Linked DNA regions of Homo sapiens: region 2 is linked to region 1. The links come from fine-mapping of genetic effects on gene expression. A gene starts in region 1. The other region holds a variant in brackets. All regions are shown on one strand. Distances are from middle to middle.

The links. PIP is the estimated chance that this variant, and not a neighbour inherited with it, causes the effect. A credible set is the group of variants that fine-mapping cannot tell apart.
Region 2: its variant is the best candidate, but not a certain one, in a credible set for the expression of KLHL23 in whole blood (TOPMed, PIP 0.70).

Annotation. Positions count from the first base shown.
Region 1 is chr2:169,725,719-169,737,974 of GRCh38, forward strand. It overlaps KLHL23 (kelch like family member 23), which reads left to right and starts at 8,114. Exons shown (of 4, transcript NM_144711.6): 1 at 8,114-8,369; 2 at 9,295-10,509. The coding sequence starts at 9,297. The region is part of intron 3 of PHOSPHO2-KLHL23 (PHOSPHO2-KLHL23 readthrough); the gene reads left to right. LOC124900531 (small nucleolar RNA SNORA51) reads left to right here and starts at 2,154; the gene lies at 2,154-2,285. RefSeq lists silencers at 7,985-8,424, 8,445-8,514, 8,625-8,804.
Region 2 is chr2:169,636,516-169,653,028 of GRCh38, forward strand. It overlaps CFAP210 (cilia and flagella associated protein 210), which reads right to left. Exons shown (of 9, transcript NM_001085447.2): 7 at 13,814-14,006; 8 at 12,667-12,831; 9 at 8,910-9,667. The coding sequence ends at 9,326. PPIG (peptidylprolyl isomerase G) reads left to right here. Exons shown (of 14, transcript NM_004792.3): 14 at 1-4,891. The coding sequence ends at 1,008. Among named protein-coding and RNA genes, the nearest start is that of CFAP210, 50 kb to the right of the region's middle. RefSeq lists a silencer at 11,130-11,330. The variant A/G (reference allele first, on the strand shown) is at 9,563.

The DNA.
Region 1 (12,256 bases):
TAATAGTCCGATTTAAAAATGAGCAAAAGATCTGAATAGACATCTCTCAAAATGAGACATACAAATGGCAAACAGGCATATGAAAAGGTGCTCAACATCATTGATCATCAGAGAAATGCAAATCAAAACTACAATTAGGCAGGGCGGGGTGGTTCTCACCTATAATCCCAACAATTTGGGAGGCTGAGGTGGGTGGATCACTTGAGGCCAGGAGTTCAAGACCAGCCTGGCCAACATGGCGAAACCTTGTCTCTACTAAAAATACAAAAATTAGCCAGGTATGGTGGTGCATGCCTTTAGTTTCAGCTACCTGGGAGGCTGAGGTGGGAGAATCAGGGAAAATCGCCCGAGGCTATAGTCGAGGCTGAAGTTAGCTGTAATCATGCCATTGCTCTCCAGCTTGGGTGAAAGAGAAAGACCCTTTCTTTAAAAACTCTTAAAAATAGAACTACCGTGTGATCCAGCAATCCTGCTGCTGGGTACTGCTGCTGGGTATATACCCAAAAGAAAGAAATCAGTACATTAAAGAGACATCTGCACTCTCATGTTTGTTGCACCATTGTTCACAATAGCCAAGATTTGGAAGTAACCTAAGTGTCTATCTATAGATGAATGGATAAAGAAAACATGGTACATATACACAATGAAGTACTATTCAGCTGTAAAAAAGAACGAGATCCTGTCATTCGCAGCAACATGGATAGAACTGGAATGTCATTATATTAAGTGAAATAAGCCAGGCACAGAAAGACAAACATCACATGTTCTCACTTATTTGTGGGAGCTAAAAATTAAAACAATTGAGATAGAAAGTAGAAGGAAGTTTACCAGGGGCTGGGAAGGGTAGTGGGGGACTGTGGGGATGTTTAATTGGTACAAAAACTAGTTTAAAAGAATAAATAGGACCTAGTATTTGCTAGCACAACAGGGTGACTATAGCCAATAATAATTATACATTTTCAAATAACTAAAAGAGTATAATTGGATTGTTTGTAACACAAAGGATAGATGCTTGAGGTGATGGATACCCCATTTACCATGATGTGATTATTACACATTGCATGTCTGCATCAAAGTATCTCACGTACCCTATAAATATATACACGTACTATGAACCCACAAAAATTTTAAAAAGGCAGGGTGCAGTGGCTCATGCCTGTAATCCCAGCACTCTCGGAGGCCGAAGTGGGAGGATCACTGGAGGTCACATGTTCGAGACCAGCCTGACCAACATGGCAAAACCCTATCTCTACTAAAATACAACAATTAGCTGGGTGTGGTGGCATGTACCTGTAATCCCAGCTACTCGGGAGGCCTAGGCAGGAGAATCACTTGAACCTGGGAGGCAGAGGTTGCAGTGAGCTGATATCACACCATTGTACTCCAGCCTGGGTGACAGAGCAAGACTCTGTCTCAAAAAAAAAAAAAAGAAAATTAAAAAAAAAAATCCTAATGGAGGTGAGAGAGCCAGTCCTGTAGTGGTAGCTGGGAAAAGAGCAGTCCAGGCGAAAGGAATAGCTAGTAGCAAAGCCCGGAGAAAGCCCTGAGGCACCGCCTCCTGGTGAGAGGCAAAGCAGAGCTGGATGTGGGGATCCAGGAGCCTGTTATAAGTACTCTGGCTTTTACTGAATGAGCCAGGAAGTCTTTGGCGAGCTTTAATCTCTGACTTATAGAATAATATCAGTCTTTCTTGGGTTAGTTGAGCCAATGCTCTTACTTGTATTCTTTCTCCATCGCTTATAATGGAAAAAGCCCTAGTTTATTATCCTTCTGTCTTGTATTAATTTTATCTGGGATTGAGCTCTGTGGCACAGAAACATATTCTCAAATAAACTGCTATCTTTTAAATAGTAATAATACTCCCTCAAACAGTAATAGGCTAATTCCTGTTTTGGGACCAGATCAGTGGTCTTTCAAATCTAATAAGTTTGAAAAACTATGTACTCACTTCCATATTTTTAAATCGATATTGGAAACTTTTCATCACAAGTTTAAATATTTGCCAAGGTTGTAATTTCTAACATGTTATAAATAATGACTGTTAAATAATACTTTTAAATCTATTTAGTAAAAACTAAATATAGCCGTTCAAAACCACTGTCATTCATTTAAAAATACATAAACAAGTTGTTCTTTAAAAGTGGGAAATTTTTGGCTTCCTAGTACTTACCATGGTCTGTGTTCTTACGCTGACTGTATAGAAACAGGAGGCAGAGTAAACCGACCCCACATATACCTCAGCCCAGGCCCTGTGCTGCGTCTGTATTGTGAATCAGGAGACATGGAGTTCAGAAAAAAAAACTATTGGAAGTTTTTATTTTCTCATTTTTAAAATTTAGTTCTCAGTCTTCTTTCTTCTTGAGTTCGTACTTCCATTCTACTTCTCTTAGAGAAGGTTGTCCCACTGAAAATACAGGCAGTCCTCACTTTGCACAATAATACAGGACCTTCAAAATAACTGTACAAGTTGAAAATGTATAATGTGATCTAAATAATCAATGGGAAAAATTATGATTGTCCTATGACCTTTACATTTTTTTGTCACAACATTATGAACTCTCTTACTATTCGTTAAAATGTATAGGGAAATAAAGAACATGGTAAGACTGATATTTACTTAGTATACTGCAATTTAAAACATTAGAAACATTGATAAAGTGTTATGTTTCTTTGTAAACACTTAACAATAGTAGTTCGCTTAGTTTCTTGCCTTCTTGTCATAAAACTTATGATTTGGCGTACTCATCTTTCTACGCCTTGATGGACTGTCATAGTTTTACGTTTGGATCAACTTCCAATGTGTTATCCTTTGCATTTTCGATGTGGTGAAATATCTCCAAGAGTTCCTTTAATGTGAAGTTTTTTGCCAGGATCACTTCCTTTGAGACATAAGGTGACTCACTTATGTCATGAGTTCACCTGCACTAAGTTCCCTGGCTGCATATCTGAATTCTCTCCAATGGTGGTAGTGTAAACATTCCCATGGTCAGCTATTTCCTCTATAACCTCATTGTGTTCATTTCACTTTTTTTTTGTTGATTTTTTTAGACGGAGTTTTGCTCTTGTCACCCAGGCCGAAGTGCAATGGCACAATCTTGGCTCACTGCAACCTCCGCCTCCCAGGTTCAAGTGATTCTCCTGCCTCAGTCTCTGAGTAGCTGGGATTACAGGCACCCACCACTACGCCTGGCTAGTTTTTGTATTTTTAGTAGACACAGGGTTTCACCATGTTGGCCAGGCTGGTCTCGAACTCCTGACCTCAGGTGATCCGCCTACCTTGGCCTCCCAAAGTGCTGGAATTACAGGCGTAAGCCACCATGCCCAGCCATTTCACATTTTATTTGCGGTATTGTCACTTTTTATTTCCATGCCATACTTTCATCCTTGTTGGTCAATACCCTTTCTCAATCACCCATTTTTGTAAAATGTCACATGGGTTTTTTACTAGCAGACAAGGAGACAATGCAACTGCAAGCCTTACTGTCTGTATGTGAACTGACAGATGCACAGAGATCAATCACTGACAGACTTTGAAAGAAGATACATGATTGGTCACTGATCAGGATGCGCATTTGTTAATGTAGTAATTCATGGACCTGAGGAGCTAGCAGCAAATTTGTATTTTATGCAGTTACTCAGAGTTAATTTACTTCAGTAACTGAAATTTGAAACCTTGTTCTCAGGGGACAGGTGTTATTTAACTAAACCATGGTAACTAAAATTCATACATATTGGAACCATTCAAAGAAAGCATTTTTGGCCAGGCCAAAAAAAAGAAAGACTTTTCTGTATGGTTTTATACTGAATATCTTTTATTAATCTCTTAACCTTCTCTGTGACAAAAATGTGTATAAATTACAATTTGTATGTCCTTGATGGTTTTATATCTTTGGTTATTTTACAAATCCTGGTCTAATTAATATTATAATTATTATTATAATTAATTAAACATAAATATGTTTAAATCAAAAGTAAAAAATTATTAAAAATTATTTCAATCTGATGAATAGGGCTACTTTCATTTAGAGTATGAAGTCAAGTAGTGCTTACTGCTGGAATGAGACAGTATTTAGGTTCAATAATGTTCCTGCTTAACATTTCTATAGACATAATCGCTGAGAAAACATGTTCACAGAGACAAATAGGTAAGAATGAGATAAATTTTATCATAGTGGCCGGGCGCGATGGCTCATGCCTGTAATCCCAGCACTTCGGGAGGCTGAGACAGGTGGATCACCTGAGGTCAGGAGTTCAAGACCAGCCTAGCCAACATGGCAAAACCCCATCTCTACTAAAAATACAAAAATGAACTGGGCGTGGTAGCATGCACCTATAGTCCAGCTAATCAGGAGGCTGAGGGAGGAGAATCTCTTGAACCTGGGAGGCAGCAGTTGCAGTGAGCCAAGATTACACCATTGCACTCCAGCCTGGGTGACAGAGTAAGACTCCGTCTCAAAAAAAAAAAAACAAACAAAAAACCTTTTTTATAGTAATGCCATTCATTTTGTCATTCCCTCCAAATTATTTGCCAAAAATCCTCTTTCACTTTTGCTGGAAACCAGGAATTGGAAACCTGTGACTTGCAAAAGCATTTTTACCTAGTTATTAGAATGTTCACTTTCTTATTTTACAGGAAACATACCAAAAAAGGTTTTACCAAGACACATCGGCTGCAGGGCAGCCACAGATACCTGCGTTGGTTGTGTACTATACAACTCCTGAGAGCAGTGTTTACACTGTACTCTACTTAAGTTGCATGAGCTGGAATTGTGCAGTGCACAATTTGCAAAGCTGTATGTGGTAGCCTTATACATTTTACCTACTATTGTTTTTTATTTTGAGACGGAGTCTCACTCTGTCGCCCAGGCTGGAGTGCTATGGCGCAATCTTGGCTCACTGTAACCTCCGCCTCCCAGGTTCAAGAGATTCTCCTGCCTCAGCCTCCTGAGTGGCTGGGATTATAGGCGTATACCACCACACCTGGCTAATTTTTGTATTTTTAGTAGAGATGGGGTTTCACCATGTTGGTCAGGATGGTCTTAAACTCCTGACCTCATGATCTGCCTGCCTCGGTCTCCCAAAGTGCTGGGATTACAGGCGTGAGCCAATGGGCCTGGCCTTTTTTTTTTTTTTTTAACTTGGCAGCAACTTGTTTAATCCAGTATGTAAATGAAGTATACAAAATGTTCTATCTATGCCCATCATCTACACACATTGTTAATGATATCACAGCATATCAAACATTTAATGGCATGGCTGTACTTAGTGGAAAGATGTACTAATAAGGTAAAAATTATAAATAAAATCATTATTTTTAGAACTCGGAGTCCTTTGAAAGCTGAAGTGTGATGTCAATAAGTCATCTAACTCCATGCCAAGCTTAGTATCTGCCAAATCATTTATGTCTCATTTCCATGGCAGCACTTTATTTCTTTAAGACTTGGAACCACAGATGGCACATCTGTTTTCTTGAACGGTATCATTAATTTATTTGATTTATGAATGCTAATTATATGTTTCTGAATGCATCAAATCTATCAGCATTTGCAATGGTCTCTTTGATAAGCACATGGTAAAGAGGAACTATGCCAGGCAATACCCTTCAGGACCTGCTCTTCTCTTAGCAAAGTGAAGCAGTATAATAGTCTAATATGTAATATACACTGATATACACTTTTAAGTAGTAATTCACAACCAGGGAACATCACGAAATGAAAGCAAGAGTTTTAGTTGGTTCATGCAGCCATCTGAAATAACTGCATAAATGAGAATATAGTGAATTCTATTATTCATGAATCATTTATTATTACATGTAGTTATGATTCCAGAAGCCCTTACTCCAAGTTAGATGGAGCCTATATTTTTTTATACATCAAACTTGGCAAACAGTAATTATAGCTGCAAAAACAGCCATCTCTACACTTCAGTGACAAAAATGGAGAGAAGTCTCCTTCAATCAGTCACAATTGTGTCCTTGAATGGCAACAGTGACAACAGCATCACTATCAGTTATGAAGGGCAAGCTATAATTACTATTAACTATGAAGTTCATAATTTCTGAAGAAATGTTAAGAAGATGCTAATTTCCAAATTAAGGTTGTGATGCAGAATTAAGTGTAAATATTCTTTCATTATAGTAGCTAACATTTATATATCAAGTCCTAAGTGCTTCATTATTAATTTGTCTTTCCAATAACCTTAGGTTAGGTTGAGAAAGTATCCATGTTGTCTGTGTTTTACAGATCTGAAGACGAAGGATCAGAGAAGTTTAGTAATTTGTGAGAGGCTATATGTTGGATAAGTGGCAGAGATGAGCCTTAAGCCCGAAACTAAATCTCATATGCTTTCCTTTTCTAACTATACTGTTTACCAGATGTTGGGATGTTAAACTTTCATCCTTCTTCCTTTTGGGTCCAACACATTCTCTTATTTGTCCATAAGAATCACCTGCTGCCCTTGATTAGAATGCAGATCCCTAGGTCTCCACCCCGCAGACGTCTGTGCGTGGGGTGTGGTAGTTGTGGGGGCTGCATAACCAGCATCTTACATAATTCAATTAAGATGATCTGACTTGTGGAATTAAACTAAAACCCACCCACAGGAGAACCAACAGATGCTATTTATTCAGAGTTTGCTGTAGAAGGGAGTCCCACTCACCATCACTTTGTCAGAGGCTCAAAGGTGGGGCAGACGAGTGGGAAAGCTTTATAGAAGTGAAGAAAAGCCCCCGGTATGCTCTGATTGGAAGTTGTTGGCATGGGAAAGCTGCAGGTGGGCTACTAGAAGCGGGGGTATTTTATGTGATGGGTTTGCGGAACATATTTGGCTTTCTCTGGTTGGTGCAGAGGTGGAACTAGGGGTAAAAATAGGGAAGTTGCACTTTGGAAGTCCCAGGCAGGAAGATCGCTTGAGTCCAGGAGTTTGAGACCAGCCTGGGCAACATAGTGAGACCCTGTCATGAAAAAATATTTAAAATTTTTCAAAAATTGCACATCTGTAGTCGTAGGTACTTGGGAGGTTGAGGCAGAGGATCTCTTGAGACCAGGAGATCGAGGCTGCAGTGAGCTAAGATCGTGCGACTACATTCCAGGCTGGGCAACATAGCAAGACCCTGTCTCAAAAAAGAAAAAAAATAGGGAAATTGCCAGTCGTTGACTACTTCCTGACTGTTCTGGTTCAGCTGCTACCAAGGTTGTGGTCTGGCTTCCTGGGCTTCTTATGTGGTTCAGAGTTCTGTTGTCACATACTATCTGGCCATTCATGTATATTGCGTTTCTGAGACCATACTCTGGGAAACACATGGTCCTCTGGTGGTGGTGAAGGTCCCTGTGAGCTAGGGACCATCTGTCAACACTCTTATCACTACTAGTGTCTATCCCTATCAGGCACTAGAAGCACTTAATAAAATCTTGCGAATGAATGAATGAATGATATACAAAAATATTTGATACTGGCTTTAGTTGGAACAAGAAAATGAACTTTGTGTACCACATAGACATCTGTGACTAGAGTGGCCGTCACCAGAAAGGCTGCTCCTTCCAGCTGCTATGCTCTAAATACAATAACCTGAATCTTAGCACGACTGGACTTCGCCTGGACTTCGCCTTGGCCCCGGCTGCCCAAAGTTTCTCTCAAAGCTTCAGCTTAACCCCTGATGTGCTCACCAGCACCAAGGCGCCCTCCTGAGTGCTTTGCTGGGGGTGGGATGGCGTTTGTGGGAAAGGCCGGCTACTTCTGGCATTTCAACGGCGCCTCCAATCCCTGACCTTTAGTTGTGCCCCATTCTCTCCACTCTTTCCCCCTTCTCTGTCCTCACGATTGAGTCTGGGCTGGCGAAGCCTACTGAGGGAGGGGAGTGTACACACATGCACACGCGCGCGCGCGCACACACACACACACACACACACACTCATATATGGTGTTATTAATAATTCAGGACTCAGAGTTTATCTAAGAGAAGACGCTCGACCGGGTGTGAGAGAGCGCGCGGGACAGAGAGCGAGCCAAGGAAGGGGAAGGCGGCGGCGCGCGCTGTCTCCTGGGGAAGCAGTCCCACCTGCTGTGGGGGGCGCCGCTGGGGAGGGGCCGAGCCGTGCTCACGCCTGCACGCCCCGCCCCGCTCGCCGCACGGCCCGGCGACGGGGGAGTTCCCGCGAGTGGCCTCGCGCCCAGACCGTGCGGGGGGCTGTTCGGGTGGAGGCGGGGGAGCCGCCGGGACACCAAAATAGGAGCTGCTTGTGGGGTGGAGCGGCACTAGCTGGCGGCTTCCGAGCGCCTCTTCCAAAGATGGTCAGAGGGGCCGGAGGCGTCCCCGCTCCCGCTCGCTACTAGCCCGCGGGCCAGCGCCGCGTCCCGAGCCCCGGCGGGAGGTAGGTGCGGTGTGGACCCGCAGCCCGAGGCCGGCCTGCTGGGAGCGAGCGGGGCCGGGCGCGGGGAGCGGGGCCGGGCGCGGGCAGCGGGGCCGGGCGCGGGCAGCGAGGCCGCGCGGGAGAGGAGCGCAGACAATGGCCGCGCGGGCGCCGGGCCGGGCCGAACGCGTTGCGCTGGGGCTGCCTGCGGCGTCCTTCCCACACCTGCGCGGAGCGCCGGGCAGAGGGACGCGGGCACCGGGCCCGCGGGCGGCACGCGGCGCCCTCGAGTCCAGCCCCGCTCCTGGCCCCGGGGCGGGGCGGTCTCCGGGCGGGAACGTGGGCCGGGGCCCAGGCGCGGGGCGCGCGGAAACCCCTGCGGCGGGCGCGGGGGAGGGGGCGAGGGCTGCAAGGGCTGCGCCGAGCTGCCTTCCTTTCTCTCCTTCCTTAAGCGAAAGGGCTCGGGATTTCCCTTTTCCGAGACCTCTTCTTGTCCATTTATATTTCCATCATCCCTTTCTTGGCATTTCGATGTGATTTGAAAGGGAGACGAGCTTGGGGAAAAGGTTGAATTGGGGCCGAGCCGAGACAGCTGAGGTCCGGCCTCGAGTGGGGTGACCCTCGGACACTTGCCTTGCCTAGTGTGGGATCTCATCTCCGAACGCCAGGCCAGGGTAGATTGCGGTGAATGGAATAGCAAATCAGTACTCTCAAAAGGACTACTGAAAAATCCAGGAGCCTCATTTCAAGCTCCGAGCTACCCTGAATTTAAATTGACCACCATATAAATGATCAAACAGTCCATCCACATTTTGCATTTATTATTTAGATGCTGAACTTAGTCCAGTTTTGGAGTATATCCGATGATAGTCAAGTTATTTAGCGTTGATTATTTGAGAGAATGTGCAACATTGAAAACACATTTGTTATTTCATATTTATTGCAGCCATGGCTCTAAAAGGACAAGAAGATTATATTTATCTTTTCAAGGATTCAACACATCCAGTGGATTTTCTGGATGCATTCAGAACATTTTACTTGGATGGATTATTTACTGATATTACTCTTCAGTGTCCTTCAGGCATAATTTTCCATTGTCACCGAGCCGTTTTAGCTGCTTGCAGCAATTATTTTAAGGCAATGTTCACAGCTGACATGAAAGAAAAATTTAAAAATAAAATAAAACTCTCTGGCATCCACCATGATATTCTGGAAGGCCTTGTAAATTATGCATACACTTCCCAAATTGAAATAACTAAAAGAAATGTTCAAAGCCTGCTTGAGGCAGCGGATCTGCTACAGTTCCTTTCAGTAAAGAAGGCTTGTGAGCGGTTTTTGGTAAGGCACTTGGATATTGATAATTGTATTGGAATGCACTCCTTTGCAGAATTTCATGTGTGTCCAGAACTAGAGAAGGAATCTCGAAGAATTCTATGTTCAAAGTTTAAGGAAGTGTGGCAACAAGAAGAATTTCTGGAAATCAGCCTTGAAAAGTTTCTCTTTATCTTGTCCAGAAAGAATCTCAGTGTTTGGAAAGAAGAAGCTATCATAGAGCCAGTTATTAAGTGGACTGCTCATGATGTAGAAAATCGAATTGAATGCCTCTATAATCTACTGAGCTATATCAACATTGATATAGATCCAGTGTACTTAAAAACAGCCTTAGGCCTTCAAAGAAGCTGCCTGCTCACCGAAAATAAGATCCGCTCCCTAATATACAATGCCTTGAATCCCATGCATAAAGAGATTTCCCAGAGGTCCACAGCCACAATGTATATAATTGGAGGCTATTACTGGCATCCTTTATCAGAGGTTCACATATGGGATCCTTTGACAAATGTTTGGATTCAGGGAGCAGAAATACCAGATTATACCAGGGAGAGCTATGGTGTTACATGTTTAGGACCCAACATTTATGTAACTGGGGGCTACAGGACGGATAACATAGAAGCTCTTGACACAGTGTGGATCTATAACAGTGAAAGTGATGAATGGACAGAAGGTTTGCCAATGCTCAATGCCAGGTATTACCACTGTGCAGTCACCTTGGGTGGCTGTGTCTATGCTTTAGGTGGTTACAGAAAAGGGGCTCCAGCAGAAGAGGCTGAGTTCTATGATCCTTTAAAAGAGAAATGGATTCCTATTGCAAACATGATTAAAGGTAAGTGGAGATTATGTTTATTTTGTATTTTTTAGATGTCTGGAGCTAGGCCAGCAGTCTCACTTCTCTTGAATTTATCACTTTGGGATGCTATCTAGGAACTATAGTTAATTATACAAATAATGCTACACAGAATGTTCCAGATAAAAACAGTATAGCATAGTTCCCAACTTGTCTGAGAGTTATGAGAATTTATATTCAAGTCAAGGGCTAGATGAAGAGACAAATCTGGACAGTTTTTCATTTTTTCATGTTCTTAAAATTGAACCCTTTAAAATTCTGCTATTCAACTTTTTCCTCTCAAAATACGCTGATCAGCTCTCAAGAGGTCCTTCATTAAAACCTTGGAAGGTTTGGTCCCTACAGGATGTAACAAAGTACATTCTTCCAGGAACTAGAGACAACGTCTGCTTTTGCAATTCAGTCCTCTCTGAGAGGGGCAGACACCATACTCTCCCTCATGTGGCCCACAGAACCCGGCACACCCCTGGGTCTCGGTATCTGTCTGATAAACACTATTTTCTGCTGTGTTTGGCGATTTGTTTGCCTTGCTCTCCTTCTCTCCCACTGGAAAAAAAGTTAAACGGGAATCTTATTTCATTGTATTTATTCATTGGTGCTGAGGAGTTGTACAAAAACAACTGGTAGGTCGTTACCAAATTTGTATCATTTTGTCCCAAATGTTTCTTCCCAGGCTTTTCTGTTTCTTTTTTAATGCTAGTGAGAGTGTGGGAATTTGACCTGGTCTGGAAATCTGACCTGGTATGATCCTTGGATGACAGGCAGGAAGCTGAGAGGCAGAACAGTCTTGGGATCAGGCACGCTGCCTCTGAAGCTAAACTGCCTGCATCCAGATCCCTGCTTTCCTCTTACTTGCTGATGAGCTCTGGCAAATTGTTTAATCACCCTGTGCCCCCGTTTTGTCATCTGTATAATGGGGATGACAATATTACCTAGTCTCGGATCATTGAGAGGATTAAATTAATCTATGCTTGTGAAGTGCCTAGAACAGTGTCTGACACAGAGTAAGCATGCTATAAATGTTACGCATGATTGTCCTGAATGTCGGTATTGAAGGACATGTCAGCTCTTATAGAGCAGAAATTGATTTCATGTGAAGTTGTGACCACTGTCACACCAGGGTGGGAGAAGGTAGCAGAAAGCCCGGTGCTGTTGCTCCCCTGGTTTTTGTCTTTGCCTGAGTCTCACCACTACTTGCCGATTCCAGGAGGGCTCTGAATGTCCTGACCCCTCTTCTGCAAAAGAAATAAGAAAAGTCCATATATTTAAGGAGCTATTGTAAACTAGCATACATTTCTGATTCTGTTTTTTAAGGATGATATAACAGTTTCAATGGTTTTGTGGTTCAGAGTATATTTCTTTTTCTTTTTCTTTTTTTTTTTTTGAGATGGAGTCTCACTCTGTCTCCCAGGCTGGAATGCAGTGGCGTGATCTTGGCTCACTGCAACCTCTGCCTCCCGGGTTCAAGCAGTTCTCCTGCCTCAGCCTCCTGAGTAGCTGGGATTACAGGCATGTGCCACCACACCTAGGTAATTTTTGTATTTTTAGTAGAGACGGGGTTTCACCATGTTGGCCAGGCTGGTCTTGAACTCCTGACCTCAAGTGATCCCCCCACCTTGGCCTCCCAAAGTGCTGGGATTACAAGGGTGGGTTCAGAGTATATTTCTTTGAGAATGAAAGCTTATTACTTTACTGAAATTTTAAAAATTTATATTTAGAACAGTGC
Region 2 (16,513 bases), 87 kb before region 1:
AATGAAAAGGAGAAGAAAGTTAAAGACCATAAATCTAACAGCAAAGAGAGAGACATCAGAAGAAATTCAGAAAAAGATGACAAGTATAAAAACAAAGTGAAGAAAAGGGCCAAATCTAAAAGTAGGAGTAAGAGCAAAGAGAAATCAAAGAGTAAAGAAAGAGATTCAAAACATAATAGAAATGAAGAAAAGAGGATGAGGTCAAGGAGTAAAGGAAGGGATCATGAAAATGTTAAAGAAAAAGAAAAGCAGTCTGATTCTAAAGGAAAAGATCAGGAAAGGAGTAGAAGTAAAGAGAAGTCTAAACAGTTAGAATCAAAGAGTAATGAGCATGATCACAGTAAAAGTAAGGAAAAGGATAGACGCGCACAATCCAGGAGTAGAGAATGTGATATAACTAAAGGTAAACACAGTTATAATAGCAGAACAAGAGAACGAAGCAGAAGTAGGGACAGAAGCAGAAGAGTGCGATCAAGAACCCATGACAGAGATCGCAGCAGAAGCAAGGAGTACCATAGATACAGAGAACAGGAATACAGGAGAAGAGGACGGTCACGAAGCCGAGAGAGAAGAACACCACCAGGAAGATCAAGAAGTAAAGATAGGAGGAGAAGGAGGAGAGACTCACGGAGCTCAGAGAGAGAAGAAAGTCAAAGCAGAAACAAAGACAAATACAGAAACCAAGAGAGTAAGAGCTCACACAGAAAAGAAAATTCTGAGAGTGAGAAAAGAATGTACTCTAAAAGTCGTGATCATAATAGCTCAAATAACAGCAGGGAAAAAAAGGCTGATAGAGATCAAAGTCCCTTCTCAAAAATAAAACAAAGCAGTCAGGACAATGAATTAAAGTCCTCCATGTTGAAAAATAAGGAGGATGAGAAGATCAGATCCTCAGTGGAAAAAGAAAACCAAAAATCAAAAGGTCAAGAAAATGACCATGTACATGAAAAAAATAAAAAATTTGATCATGAATCAAGCCCTGGAACAGATGAAGACAAAAGCGGATGAGTGAGTTATATAAACTTACTTCCATTCTGTTTCGGATTTTAAGTTTGAGAGACTTGCTAATGAATCTCCTTTATGTTGTTTTCCTTTTCATTGTTTTTGGATTGTTTTATGTTTGTCCTTTTTTTTCTTAATGTGGATTTCATTGAGTTGATTTTTTGATAATCTGCAATCTGGATAATTTGTACTGCTAAAGTTTTAATAAACTCGACATGAGAAAAACACTTTGGTGTAGTACTGTGTGCTGTGTTTAACTATTTTATGTATGCATTACTGTGTTGCAACAATTAGCCAATAGCATCCTAATTTGTTTAGTCAGCCATTTGGAATGGTTGCAATGCATTGTTGCAAAAGCTTGTGTTTCTCATGATTAAAGTAACTTTAGAAGCCACTAGAAGACATCTTGTATAGATTTTCTGATTGCGTTATAAATAGAGGTTTGCAGCGGTTTCTTTTAATTACACAGAAGCAGGGTCCTAATAACCTGAGATCTTAAATCATCACTTTTGATTTTATAGTAATTTGTGCTTTAAAATAGATGTATTTATATTGCACTTCATACTCTATTCTTTATAGTTCGAGCCATAGCTTGTTTCCTATTAATGCTTTTCCTGTCTAGTTGTGTTTTACTTAACTGCCTATAAAAATCGTAAGAGTAATTTTTTTCAGTTGATGTACTGATTGAGCTTGAGTTGCTGTTATACAGCATTTGACAGGAACTATACCTTGGAAAATCAGATTGTGATTCTCAGTTCTGTGTTGCTTTTGGTTTGAAGAGTTTTGGGAACGTTTTAATTATTAATTACCCTTCTCTAAACTTTAAAAAAAAAAAAGCTTTTCTCATTAAAACATACCATTTGTGCAGGTCCTTAAGCTATACAGATTCTAAAAATTGTTAGTATTGAGACATTAACTTCTAAGATTTCTCTTTTTTGGCCTCCAACCTATATAGAATTGAGTGTTAACTCTGCATGGATTTTGTTTGTTTTAATTGAACTGACTTCTCTAACTCTCATAGCTGTGAGTTCCAAATGGCAAGAAAATGCATCTTTTCTATATATGTATCACGATAGGCTATAGCATGTTTATGACTCTGGTTTCTTTCTCTTCAGGTGGTTTTATACCATTACTGTTAATGTTATTTTAACTTGGCATGTATAACATTGCCATATAGAGTAGAGTAGAAAGTTGCAAATTTTGATAGTTTACAGAGTTAAACACTAAACATATCCAAAGTCCATTTAGAGTTTTGGGTGTTGTATTTTGCCATTTTTGTGATGTGTGGCCTTTTATTCTGTAATCTCTTCTAAATAAAACATTGAACATCCAGCAAACATAAAACCTGCCTCATTTGAAAAGGAATTTCAAAATTCCAATTAATAGGATTCTCTAGAGAGTTTTGTACTTTAATATTTGTCAGTGTAGTGTCAACTCTGTTACCAAGGTAGCTTCTTGGTAAATCCAGTAGCTACTCAATGCTATTTGTACTGAATAAAGCAATTATTAACATGATACTTCCCACTATTGATTAATGCAATATTGATATATTTGGCGTTGTGGTAGCTGTTGCAGAATGAATAGTGTAATGACCATAAGATTGCTTGGAAAATTGTAATACAGATATCCACAATGAATTCTTTCCAAAATTTTTTTTTCCGATGATAAAAGTAGTAGATGTTTATTATAAAATCCAAGGTGATTGATTCCTTAGAGACTGACCACAAACCCACATTAGGGATAATTGAGTCTGAGTGCCCAAGCTATATAACGTTATGTAGTTTAAGCAAGTTATTGTTTGTCTTAATTTCAGTTAACTGCATTTTAAAATTGTTGTTATAAACTATTTGAGCTTTAAGAAAGGTGCTATTTAAGAAAGGATTTCTAATAACAGTTAAATATTTTTTTTAAGTCCATGCTAAGTAAAAATTCTTACATGTTGTCTGATCCCAGAGCTTTATCTACTAAAAATTATACATAAGGATTTCCAAATCTTAGAGTTTCAAAAAGTAACCATAGGGAAAAAAATTGTAGTAATTTCTATAGGCAATATTCTGTTTGGGTTATCAAAAGAGCAACTCCATGCTCCGCATTATTTATAGTCCTTATTTTAAAGTTTTATTAGCTCTCTTTACAGAACAGATGTGAAGGAGTTGAGAGGACAATCAACTAGATTTTATTTTTAGAATATAAAGAACATTTTTAAAATGATTAAACAGCATTAACTGTACCTCAGGATCTGCGCATGCATCTGAATAGCACACGGCTCAAATGGTCCTTTCCTTTTGTTACATTTAGTAGTTGTGCCATCTTTAGTTTTTGCTTTGAACATTGTTTTCCTAAAAGTCAACTATTACTTTCCCATCAAGTTGGTTTTATAGTTATGTCTAAATTTATGGTTCATGTCAAAGTATTTTTGACTTAATATCCTTTTAAAAATATTTAAACTGATTTATTGCTCAATTGGTGATAGCTGAGAAAATTTTTTCAATATGTAGAATTTTCATGGTTATTTTGTATGAATTATTTTTCTGGGTAAGCCATCTGCCACAGAAATTGACACTATGGTGAGATTAATGTTAATGAAATGAGCAGTAGAGAAGCTACTGGATTGCTTTAAAACATTCTTTGATTAAATTACTACATAGTTGGTAAGTTCATAGTTTTAAGTTACTTAATTGAAGCCCTCAGAAGTTGCAAAGAATTTATCTGATAAATCTGCCTTTGCACAAATGTGATACTGATGCATGGACGGCTTTGCGGAATGACCTTTGATATTTGTGCCTAGTGGAAGGTATGGAGCTAAACAATTAAAGAACTCTTCATTATGGATAGGCACATATTGGATCTCTGGTATTTTGGGTAGTGGTATTAACTTGACAATTCTAATTTATTTTAGTTAGTATATGTAGCAAGTTAGTATGTTTGTTAGTAGTTTATTGTACTTCATTCCAGTTGGTAATATAGTTTTCATCACACTAAACTTTTTATACTAAATTTCTGTAGAAGCTTGTTGGGTTTGCCTTCACCAGAAGGTACTTTAAATACCTACCATAGCTGATTTGTTATAAAGAAACAAAATGGGTGTTCTTCTGTTTCCTTTTGATTATGTTTACTGTAATTATTTCATTTTGGATTTATACATTTACAATTGAATAAGGATTATAGGTTGATAAGCTGTTTATTGTGAAAAGATGTGTTTTGTTACAAATACTTGTTTTAAAAATTAATAAGCCCCCAGGAAGTACAGCATTGACTGGCACAACTGCCCATAGTGAGCTTCCCAACTAACTGCCTTCAGTGGATTCGGGCAAGTGCAAAGTCTTTGGCCTATTGTGTGACAAAGAGGTATATATTAAAGGAAAAGAAAAATGACATGAATAAGAAAATTCCGTCAACAAGGTTGGAGTAGGGAGTTGTTGAGGGGTTTAGTTTGTTTTAAAAGGTATGTGAGGGAGTGGTGGGGTGGATTTGTGTTTCTGACTTTTTTTCTTTAAGCAAATTCCATATGTTACCAAAAGCACATGCTGTATATTTTCTTCCCCTTTTGTGTGTATATAGTATTTTGAAAGATAAATGAATTGGGTATTTGTATGTGGGATGTACAAAATTGTGGCCGCTCTCTTTGTGGAAGGAAAAAACATAAATGAAGTTAATGCACTTCTTTTCCTAGCCCAAAAGTCACTGTGATTATATTTTTTTAATGAAGTTTAGAAAAAAAGCTGTTGTCTTCTCAATTGTAAAATTAGTTTCAAAATGCTGCTTCTCTTATCATTAGTCTAGTAATTGTTGAACTTTTCTGCAAACTGCATTTTACAAAATTGAAACTTGGAAGCTGTATTAACTTTTATAGTTAAACATTGTATTAAATAAACTATACTATAATAAACAGTTTGGTTTTGTATTTTTTAAATTGTATTATCCAGCCTTTTAAAAATTAAAAGCTAAATAATGAAAATAAACCAATTAAAACATACTTTTACTCTCAGATATACAGGTATTTACATTATGAAAAAACTGAACAAAGTTTTAACAATACTGAGCTTTAAGAATTTAGCCAGCAGGGAAAATTTCCAGGTTTGAGAATGTTCTAATGTAAATATTTAATCATAATACTTCAGATTGTAGTGTGTCTTTTGCCCAGCAAACTTTCAAGGTTAAGCTCGGAATTTGTATTACTGTCTACTAGATCACTACCATTTGCTTCTTAAGTCCTCCGCATTTTTTTCAGCATTAGGATCACTGTAATAGATCCTGTGCCTATAACAGAGTGGTGAAGTCATGTAAACATAAATGTTAATTGAATTCTGTAAAACATTACCTAGTTTGGGGGCTGTTTTTTCTTACATTAGACATGTAGGGAAAATGCACTTAGTTGAGAGTGCGTCATTGAAAATATATGCCTAGTTATACTGAATATTGACAATGAAAGGTATATACCTAGGTAAAAACCTTCTGAACATTCAGTAGTTTGTATGTGTTAACACGTGAATATTATTAAACTCCCAAAATCTGGAGTGTTCTTAAAAGCTTTATCCAAGAAAATGTATAAAATGCAAGTGCAACAAATGAACTGCAAACTGTGCATTAAAATAACTTCAGGCATCAATTCGCTTTTTCTATTTACTTCCTAGGTTTCTTTCCTAAACATATTTCCTTACCTGATAACTTTGTTATCATAATTTTGTTTCATAATTTTTACATTTCCCCACTCCCATCAAAGTCCTCTCAGTAATCAGAATGCCTTGTTCCAATTTATGTCTTTGCCACAGATTTTATCTATGAGTTTCTCTTATCAAATTAGCAGATTAGAGTAGTTGCGTTTCCACTGCTGTGCTTCAGTTCTTTTCATTGAATTATTTTGTGATTAACATTGTGTAGCCTTACCTTTCTTCTCAGTATACTCTAGTAGAAAGCCCAGCCCAATTTAAAGTAAAATAAATTGTATATATAAGGCAGAAAAACTAGTAATGTCTGGTGTTTTATGTTATCCTTCACTCAAACTAAGTTGGTTGTATAACACTTTTATGTAATTAACCGTTACGTAGAAACTTATTTCCTGTTTTATAATATGGGGGAAGATAGCTGTCTAAAATTACTAATTACCACTATATATTGTATTTATGTAATTTAAAGGAAAGGATATATGGCAGAAGTTCCCAGACTTTCTTGGTTCACTTTACCTGTGTCTCAGTAATTTTAACATGGTGTTATCCCTGCGCCAGAATAAATACCTAACAGATCGGTTTATTAAAAGGCCAGGAGCACACCTATAATCCCATAACTGGGAGGCTGAGGCAGGAGGATTGCTTGAGTCCAAGAGCTTGAGGCTGCAGTGAGTTGTGATTGTGCCACTGCACTCCAACCTGGGCCACAGAGTGAGACCCAGTCTCTAATAAAAAATAAATAAAAAGTTCACATAGCTAAAGTATATCTAACAACTTAGCCATTTGAAATTTTAAAAAATATTTTTACAGTTCCATTCTTAACCACAATTAGTTACTAATGGAATGTGTGCAAATGTTGGTCACAGCACAACTTCTCAAACCTCAAAATCAGATCACACACCATCCTCTACTATAATACATTGATTTTGTGCAATATATGAGTTTTATCCCATCAGCTGCTGAAAATTCAGCTTTACAAACAGGATATCATCAAAAGGCACAGTGCATTTAATATGTTGAACTACCTCAAGCTAGTCTTACAGATGTCAGGTAATTTGTTTCAAAAATTTGTGAGTTCACTGTGGTTCCTCAGTATGCCTTGGCACACAATTTGGCAATCAGTAGATAGTGTTGTTTTAAATAACCAGCTATTTTACTCCTTTAAAACAGTTCATTTTTTAAAACCCGAGGTCCATAAACCCACAAACAGTAACTCAGAATGATGGTTGCCTACAGAATCTGCCATTTTAAAAAAGTACAACCCAGGTATACTAAGCCACAATCTTAGATGTATGTTAGTCACTGTGCTGTGCAGTCTATTAGAGGGCATTGTGGAAGTCCTTAAAACTGTATGCACAATTGTAGAGTATATGTGTATGTGTACCTTACTGCTGAAAAAGCCACTAAGTTTTATCAGATTCCAAGAGGCTCATGACATAAGTAATGTTTGCTCTAAGATTTGGTCTCTTATAGAATGATACACTGAACAATTTACACCTTTACCCAGCATTCCCCTGTGTAGGAATCTATCTCAAAGGTTAACTGACAAAAATATGAAAAAAAAAAAAAAAAAAGGCAGCTGTTAATTACAGAATTTATAATAGCTGAAGACTGGAAACCACACAAATATCTATTGGTATGCCACTGGTTGAATAAACGGGTACACCCTTGCAAGAGAATACTATGTCAGTTGGAAAAGAAGATATTTATATCTGCTGTGTTGTGTCTCTAAGCTATATTAAGTGAAAAGAACGAAGTTATTTTGTGTAAGTAAAATATATGTGTATTTGCTTTTAAAGAGAAATAAGCAAAGGATACAACAGTGAAATGGCAACCTAAGGAAGGAAAAGTATTTGCAAATCATTTATCTGAAAAGGGATCAATCTAGAATACATAATAACTACAACTCAACAACAAAACAAATAACATGAAAAAAATGGGCAAAGGACTTGGAACAGATATTTCTCCAAAGATGATAGACAAATGGCCAGCAAGCATATGAAAAAACGTTCAACGTCACTAATCCTTAGGGAATGCAAATCAAAATCACAATGAGATATCATCTCACAGCCACTCAGGATGTCTACTGTCAAAAAAACATGTTGGTGAGGATGTGCACCTTGTGCACTGTTGGAAATGTAAAAGGGTTCAGCTGCTATGGAGAAAAGTATGAGTTTCTAAAAATTTAGAATTATATGATTCAGCAATTCTACTTCTGGGTATATATCCAAAAGAATGGAAAGGATCTTAGAGCTATTTGTACGTCCATGTTTAAAGCAGCATTATTCACAATAGCCAAGAGGTGGAAGCAACCCAAGTGTCCATTCATGAAGGAATGAATAAACAAAATGTGATATACATACAATGGAGTATTCAGCTTTAAAAAGGAAGAAAACTGACATAAACTACAACATGGATGAACCTTGAGGACCGTACACTAAATGAAATAGTCACAAAAGGACCTATACTGTAGTGGTCAAAATTCACAGAAACAGAATGGTGTTTCCCAGTAGCTGAGGGGAGGGGGAAATGGAGACTAGTTGTTTTATACAGAGTTTCAATTGTGCAAGATGAAAAAATTCTGCAGATTGTTCAGCAATATGAAGATACTTAACACTATTGAACGATATACTTAGAAATGGTTAAGACATTAAATTAGGTGTTCTGTGTTTTTTACCTAAGAAATGAAAAAAAAAATTAAACAGTGGGGGAATGCAGTTCACAAAATCACACAAAATTCAGTGGTACTAAGTACATTCACAGTATCGTGTAGTCATGACCATTATCTAGTTCCAGAAGTTTTTGGTGCTCCACCTGGAAACCCCCTACTCATGAAGCAGTCACTCCCCATTCCCCTTCCCCACAGCCCCTGGTAACTGCTAATCTGCTTTGTCTCTTTGGAAACAAGTTTTGTTGTCTAAAGTTGGCAAAACTACATGTAGAATTATTTTAAGTGACCTCAAAACATGATAATGTGTACATGTCTAGTAAGATATACTCTATAAAATAAACCACAAAGAAGTCTTCATTCAATAATCCTATTGTTAGTGTAATAATGCTGGTAATGTTATCTGATACTAACTGCTGAAGGACAAAGCAAATAAGCATATGAATTTCTGCTGAAGAGAAATATATCAAGGAGAATATTATTCAGCCATAAACCAAAATGAGGCACTGATAAATGGCACAACATGAATGAACCTTGAAAATATGCTAAGTGAAATAAGCCAGACACAAGGCCACAGTATGATTCTGTTTATTCAAAATACCCAGTATAGGCAAAGCAGATAAAGTTACCAGGAGCTGTGGGGAAGGGGAATGGGGAGTGACTGCTTAATGAATGGGTATGGGGTTTCTAGTAAGAGCACTGAAAAATTCTGGAACTACACAATGGTCATGGCTACACAATATTTTGAATGTACTTAATACCACTGAATGTACATTTAAAAAGTAAACTTGTGTATTTTACCACAGTTAAAAAAAGGAATCTCAAAATTGGGGTTTTATATATACCCAAAAGAAATACTGAGAACAATCAATTAAATCAGACATAATTGTACTTAGATGAAGAACAGCTTTATTAACTGAAATCCATTTATATTTGAAGCTCATATATGCTACAACTTAGTCTTCTCAATGTTAAAAATAATTTTTTTCTACCATGTAAAACCTAGCCTTCTCTTTGACTTTTGAAAATTATATTTTGGTCCCTGAGAGTTATAAAAAGGGAGCTGGACTCCAGTAACATCATTTGCCTGATAGCTGGGTCTTAATCCACCTCTGTCCACAAACACTGGTCCACGGCCACCTCCAGGTCCTTCCTGTACAGCTTTTACAAGAGGGTAAATATATTTATTTGTTGTTTCCGATTCAAGTTCAATTACCTCTCTGGC[A/G]TAGTCCTGAAATTCTTTCTCCTTTTCAGCCACAAGAGCTTCAGTAAGTCTGCAATAATCTAATTCTGCTTGTTTTGCTTGCTTTGCATTAAACTTATTTTTGGCCTATTTGGGAAAGAAAGGAAATTTAACTTAATATTGGTTAAGAACATGAACTTTCTAAATATACATAGCATTTGAAAATGTAGGTATAATTTTCTAAACTCATTGATACTTTACAAGTTCTGATTTAACAACTATATACTATCATTTATTTCAGAATCTTTCCTATCATGCTCAAAGTGGTGGTGCAATGAAACCTTTATTAATAGCCTTATGTGATACATTTGCAAATAGCACAGTGAAATAGCGAAAATTATGAAATTTAGATAAAACTCAGGTAACTGAGTTTAGAGTCCTGTTTCAATCACAAGATGTGAACTTTGGTGGTTTAGAATGCACACCCACCATTGTCTCTAACCATCCACTATTCTGGAGGAATTCACTCAACTCTACTGTGCTGGGTCAGCCCAATATACTATGTCCCCAGCCACATAAGATTAAATCAGCAGTGAATATCTGGACTAAAACCATTTACATTATCTATTTCCCGAAAATTTAAAATTGGAACAGTGAGTGACATTTATCAATGTAGGTTGAGAAGGCACTGAGTGGAATAAGTAGGCAATTTGCCAAAAGCCAATTTACCAATATTTTATACAAATTTTGTCGTTTAATTCTTTATATTAATTTACATTGGATGAGATTCTTTTTATGGCTTTTCTGTGATGCTCTGGTTGGCAACTTCTCATTTTGTATTCTCTGTGGCATTTTAAGAAATGTTGAGTTTATTTTTTAAAATAACAGTTACTTTGACTACTTAGGAATATATTTAATATTCATAAAAATATTTCTCAAAATCCAAAATGTTGGCATAAAATAGTAACCCAAACCTGATATCTATCATAAATTTAAATTTTTGATGGAATAGAGCAACCATATTAGTGTGAAATATCAAATTTTTCATTATTGAGTGCTACAATTCAAAATTCAGTTTACATACTATTTGTGAAATTGGGGATAAAATGCCAGAGTTTTAAAAAGTAGAAAATGACAATAAGATTGGAGAAAAAGTCAAAAAAAAGCTAAAATCGATCTCTAATCGAAGGTAAAATGCTAATATTTGGGAACTTAATAAGCAGCAATTTGGATATGTTTAGTAAATGTAGAAAAATATTGAGGGAACAGAAAGAACCACTTGAAGCACAGAAAGGAAGTGACAATGGAAGGAAAGAATTACTATAATGGAACATATGATTGGTACCTCACATTTGATATGCATTAAGCATAAATATATAAAGAAAAAGTTCCAAAAAATTAAGTTTAAAATCCTAAAAAACGCTAACAGATGAAGGTAAAGTACCTTCGAAGTACATTTGGAAGATAATAGCTAATTAACTGTCTGAAAACTGGAAAATAAGGCAAAAAAAATCAAGTATTCTGTTTTTTTCTTTAAAAATTGTACCTAAGAGGAACCAAGTATTTGATCAAGAAAACTTCTTAAAGACTTCAACAAGTAAATCAGAAGGATTCCAAATACTGATCTTATTTGATCGTGATTGAAACAACAAACTATTTTGGCACCTGGCCAAAAATTTAAAACTTTTATACATCAAAGATACTATCAATGGAGTAAAAAGGTAACTCATGGGATGGAAGAAGACATTTCCAAATCATGTATCTGATAAGAGATTTAATACACAGAGTATTTTTAAAACTTCTAAAACCCAACAACAAAAAATCCAATTCAAAAATGGAGGCCGGGCACAGTGGCTCATGCGTAGTCGTAGCACTTTGGGAGGCCGAAGCCAAGGTGGGCACTTCAGGTCAGGAGTTCGAGACCAGCCTGGACAACATGGTGAAACCCCATCTCTACTAAAAATACAAAAATTAGCCCAGCGTGGTGGTGGGCACCTGTAATCCCAGCTACTTGGGAGGCTGAGGCAGGAGAATTGCTTGAACCCTGGAGGCAGAGGTTGCACTGAGCCGAGAGTGGGTATCATGCCACTGCACTCCAGCCTGGGCAACAGAGCAAAACTCTGTCTCAAAAAAAAAAAAAAAAAAAAAAAAAAAAGTGAAAACCAAACAGAAAAGGACAAATATTGTCTGATTCCATTTATGAGGTACCTAGAATAATCAAATCCATTGAGATAGTAAAACAGAGGTTACTCAGACTGGAGAAAAGAGGGGATAGGGAGTTACTGTTTAACATGTACAGAGTTTTAGTACAGGATGATGAAAAACCCTGGAGATGTATAGTGGCCATGATCAATGTGAATGTACTCAATGCCTCTGAACTGTACACTTAACCATGCTTAAAATGGTACTTTTTATGTTATGTATATTTTACCACAATAAAAATCAATTTTAAAAAACTCAGCACTAAGAAAACAACCCAATTAAAAATTGGCAACACTCTTAAATAGACACTTCACAAAAGAAGGTATGCAGATGGCTAGCAAGGATGTGAAAAAAATGTCCATTATCTTTGGTCATTAGAGAAATGTAAAATAAAGCCATAAGATATCACTATACTAGAATAGTTAAAATTAAGGGATGACTATCAAGTGTTGATGAGTATGTGGAGTAAGTTGTGCTTGCATACATTGCTGGTAGGAATGGAAAATGGTACAACCATTTCAAAAACAGGTTTTAGTTACAAATGATTGGATGCTAGGTCCTCTACACATCTTTTAAAATCTGATATCTCCATTCCTCAAATCTGAAACCTATGAGATCGCAATCAACATAGTCTCTGAGATATGGGAAAAAAGTAAAACAAGATGAACATTATGGCCTCCACATGCATTTGTATTTTCTTTAATATTTACTGAAGTATAATAGACACTAAAGAAGGATAAACATTCATTTAAAAGATAAAACTCACATGGGAACTTCACTGGAGATAGAAACAAACCTCACATTTTTAATACATTTTATTGTGTCATAACCATAATGACCATTTTTTTCTTACCTGATGAAACTGCTTGGGAGTAGAAAACTAGCATGAATTCTGTATTATATACTTATTACTAACATAATTATAAACATTCAGGAGTAATTACCATTTGCTGAATATGGGCATCTTGAACCTCTTGATGTTCTTTATCAGCTTTGCATTTTTTCTCCTTTTCATGTTCCCAGAAAATCTGATCTGCTTTCATGACAGCCAGCAATTGTTCTTTAGCCTCTATTTTTCTTTGTCTTTCTTCTTCCTCTTTATTTTTCATCTAGATGTTTAAAGGCAAAGGAAACATATAAAACCAGTTATAGCAACCAGTCTTGTCTGAAAAGGCACAGAGTCAGAGAGTTGAAGCAGAGGAGAGTCAGCCAGGAGCAATGCAGGAGCAGAAAAGTGCATGCACCTGGGGTGGTTCCCATGCGGCCAGTTTACTTTGGTTTTGTTCTATTTCCTGAATATCAGAAAATACCCAAGTGCTATAGGACAATCCTTATTGGCTTGAAAAAGATGAAAAGCAAGATCTTCTCAAGGAAGGGAAATATATGTAAGTAAAAAATTAATTGCTCCAGCCATACTTGGTGGCTCAACACCTGTAATCTCAGCACTTTGGGAGGCCGAGGTGGGCGGATCACCTCGGGAGGTCAGGAGTTCGAGACCAGCCTGACCAACATGGAGAAACGCTGTCTCTACTAAAAATACAAAATTAGCCAGTCATGGTGGCGCATGCCTGTAATCTCAGCTACTCTGGAGACTGAGGCAGGAGAATTGCTTGAACCCAGGAGGCGAAGGTTGAGGTGAGCTGAGATCGCACCACTGCACTCTAGCCTGGGCAAAACTCTGTCTCAAAAAAAAAAAAATTGCTCCAATGTGTATAAACTATCCAAATTAAATGTTATGACAGTCATGTAAGATATGTTTTAAAATATTAAGAAACAGAAATGTATAATTTTTACATGGTTTGTCTTTAAAACCTACAAATGAAAAGTATAACAAATAACCTTTGCGTTTCAGATGGTTCTGAAACAGAAGAGATTATTACTTTGCATCTATAAATATCTTTTTTGTAACTGTCGTGTCATCTTTGTTAGGAAGTAAACATTGTCCAATTTCAAAAATACAGGAAGATAATTCATACATTGTTTTTAATATCTTGGCTAGTTTTTGGTTAGAGAGGCAGATGAGATGGAAAACACAGTGGAAAGGTCCTAACTCTGTCTTTCTATTTTTATTTTCATAATTGAATTGTTTACCACAATGGCTCGATATTCTGCAATTGTTTTTAATTCTGCTTTGTTTTTTTCATCTTTTTCTCTTTCTCTTTTTTCCCATTCAGCCTCAGCTTCTGCAATATCTCTAGCAATAATCATATCTTCATTGTCAAGTTTCTCTTTCAACAGTTCACTCAGGAAGTTATGTATTCTTTCTCTTCGTTTCTCCATAAGCCTATAACAAAATAACCATACTCGTCAAATCTTCATGAACACATGTCCAATGGAGCCAACATAATTTAATTAGGGAATCTGAGATATTTTGCAGTCTCTTACAAAACTAACAGGAGCCCCATTGCTCCTTACATATATTATTTTAAGTGGACATTATTTTTTAACTATAAAGTAACATATATTCTAAAATCCAAAGACAGTAATATGTATAATCTGTGTGTGTGTGTGTGTGTGTGTGTGTGTGTGTGTGTTTAAGAAATAAGATCTTAAAATTATCTACACTGAAAAATATTTTAGGCCAGGTGTGGTAGCTCATGCCTGTAATCCCAACACTTTGGGAGGCTGAGGTGGTAGGATCGCTTGAGCCCAGGAGTTAAGAGACCAGCCTGGGCAAGATGGCAAGACCCCATCTCCACAAATTTTTTAAGCTGGGCGTGGTGGCTCATACCTGTAATCCCAGCACTTTGGGAGGCTGAGGCGAGCACATCACGAGGTCAGGAGTTCGAGACTAGCCTGACCAACATGGTGAAACCCTGTCTCCACTAAAAATACAAAAATTAGCCGGGCGTGGTGGCAGGCGCCTGTAATCCCAGCTACTCAGGAGGCTGAGGCATGAGAATCGCTTGAACCTAGGAGGCGTAGGTTGCAGTCAGCCGAGATCACACCACTGCACTCCAGCCTGGGCGACAGAGCAAGACTCTGTCTGAAAAAAAAAAAAAAAAAATTTAGCCAAGCGCAGTGGCACGGACCTGTAGTCCCAGCTACTCAGGAGGCTGAGGCAGGAGGACTGCTTGAGCCCAGGGGTTCAAGGTGGCAGTGAGCTATGTACCACTGTACTCCAGCCTGAGTGACAGAGTGAGACTCTATTAAAAAAAAAGAAAAAAAATTTTTTTTGAGACTGAGTCTCACTGTCACCCAGGCTGGAGTGCAGTGGCACAATCTTGGCTCACTGCAACCTCCACCTCCTGGGTTCAAGCGATTCTCCTGCCTCAGCCCAGCTAGTTTTTTTATTTTTAGTAGAGAGGGAGTTTCACCATGTACCCAGGCTGGTCTTGAACTCTTGACCTCAAGTGATCCGCCCGCCTCAGCCTCCCAAAATGCTGGGATTACAGGTGTGAGCCACTGCACCTGGCCACAGAAAATATTTCAATATTTTATCAGACTACCCTGCTTACTCTATCATTGGAGGCTGAGGCTATAAAAGGCCTTTATTTAAATAAAATCAAGGAAATAATCTAATAAAAGTTATCAAAATCCTAAATATCCATCCCCTCACAATACTCTGTCTGGAATTTATTCACAGCACTTTTTTAACTTGATCTGTTTAAATTTCTCCCTTTACACTATAAGGTTCCTTTTTTTTTTTTTTTTTTAAGAGACAGGATTTTGCTATGCTGGCCAGGCTGGTCTCAAACTCCTGGCCTCAAGCAATCCTCCTACTTTGGCCTCTCAAATTCACTATGAGATTCCTCAGGTCAGAAATTGAATGGGTCCTCTCTCTAGTTAAGAGCCTAAGCATGTGCCTGGTACATCATAAGAATACATCTTGTTAAATTAGGGCATTTTTATTTATGAAATTGCATAAAAAATAATTTTGTTGTGACAAATTCACTTAGTGAATTGGCAAAGCAGCATGTGAGAAATGATGAGAAAGGATACAGTGCATACTCCAAGGAAATTACAATTTAAAGTGGAGAAAAGACATTTATGCAAATGTCTTTATAGTTATAGAAGACAAAAGATAATAAATGCCATGAGAAAGCTAGAAAATGATATGGACAAATGAGAAAAAAAGAAAGCCTTCAGAGAAAAGGTGACATTTCTGGTAGAATTCCAAAAAATAGTATTTTAAACAGTTTTATTGATTGCTTACTATGCTCCTGACACTATTCCCGGTGCTGGGGACAGACATAACAGTGAACAAAAACATTAGAAGTTGGGCATGGTGGTGCGCACCTTTAGTCCCAACTACTCAAGAGGCTAAGATAGAAGGATCCCTTGAGGCTATGAGGTTGAGGCTACAGGGCACTGTGATCACGCCTGTGAATGGTCATTGTCCTCCACCCTGGGCAACATAGCAAGACCTCATCTCTAAAAAAAAGTTTTAATAAAAATAAAAATCTCTGCCCTCATGGGGCTTTCATGATTGCTGGAGGAGAGGGACAGTAAACAAAATAAATAGTTTTAAAAAATAGCCGGGCGCAGTGGCTCACGCCTGTAATCCCAGCACTTTGGGAGGCCGAGGCGGGCGGATCACGAGGTCAGGAGATCGAGACCATCCTGGCTAACACGGTGAAACCCCGTCTCTACTAAAAATTACAAAAAAAAAACTAGCCGGGCCTGGTGGCGGGCTCCTGTAGTCCCAACTACTTGGGAGGCTGAGGCAGGAGAATGGCGTGAACCCGGGAGGTGGAGCTTGCAGTAAGCCGAGATCGCGCCACTGCACTCCAGCCTGGGCGACAGAGCAAGACTCCGTCTCAAAAAAAAAAAAAAAAAAAAAAAAAAAAA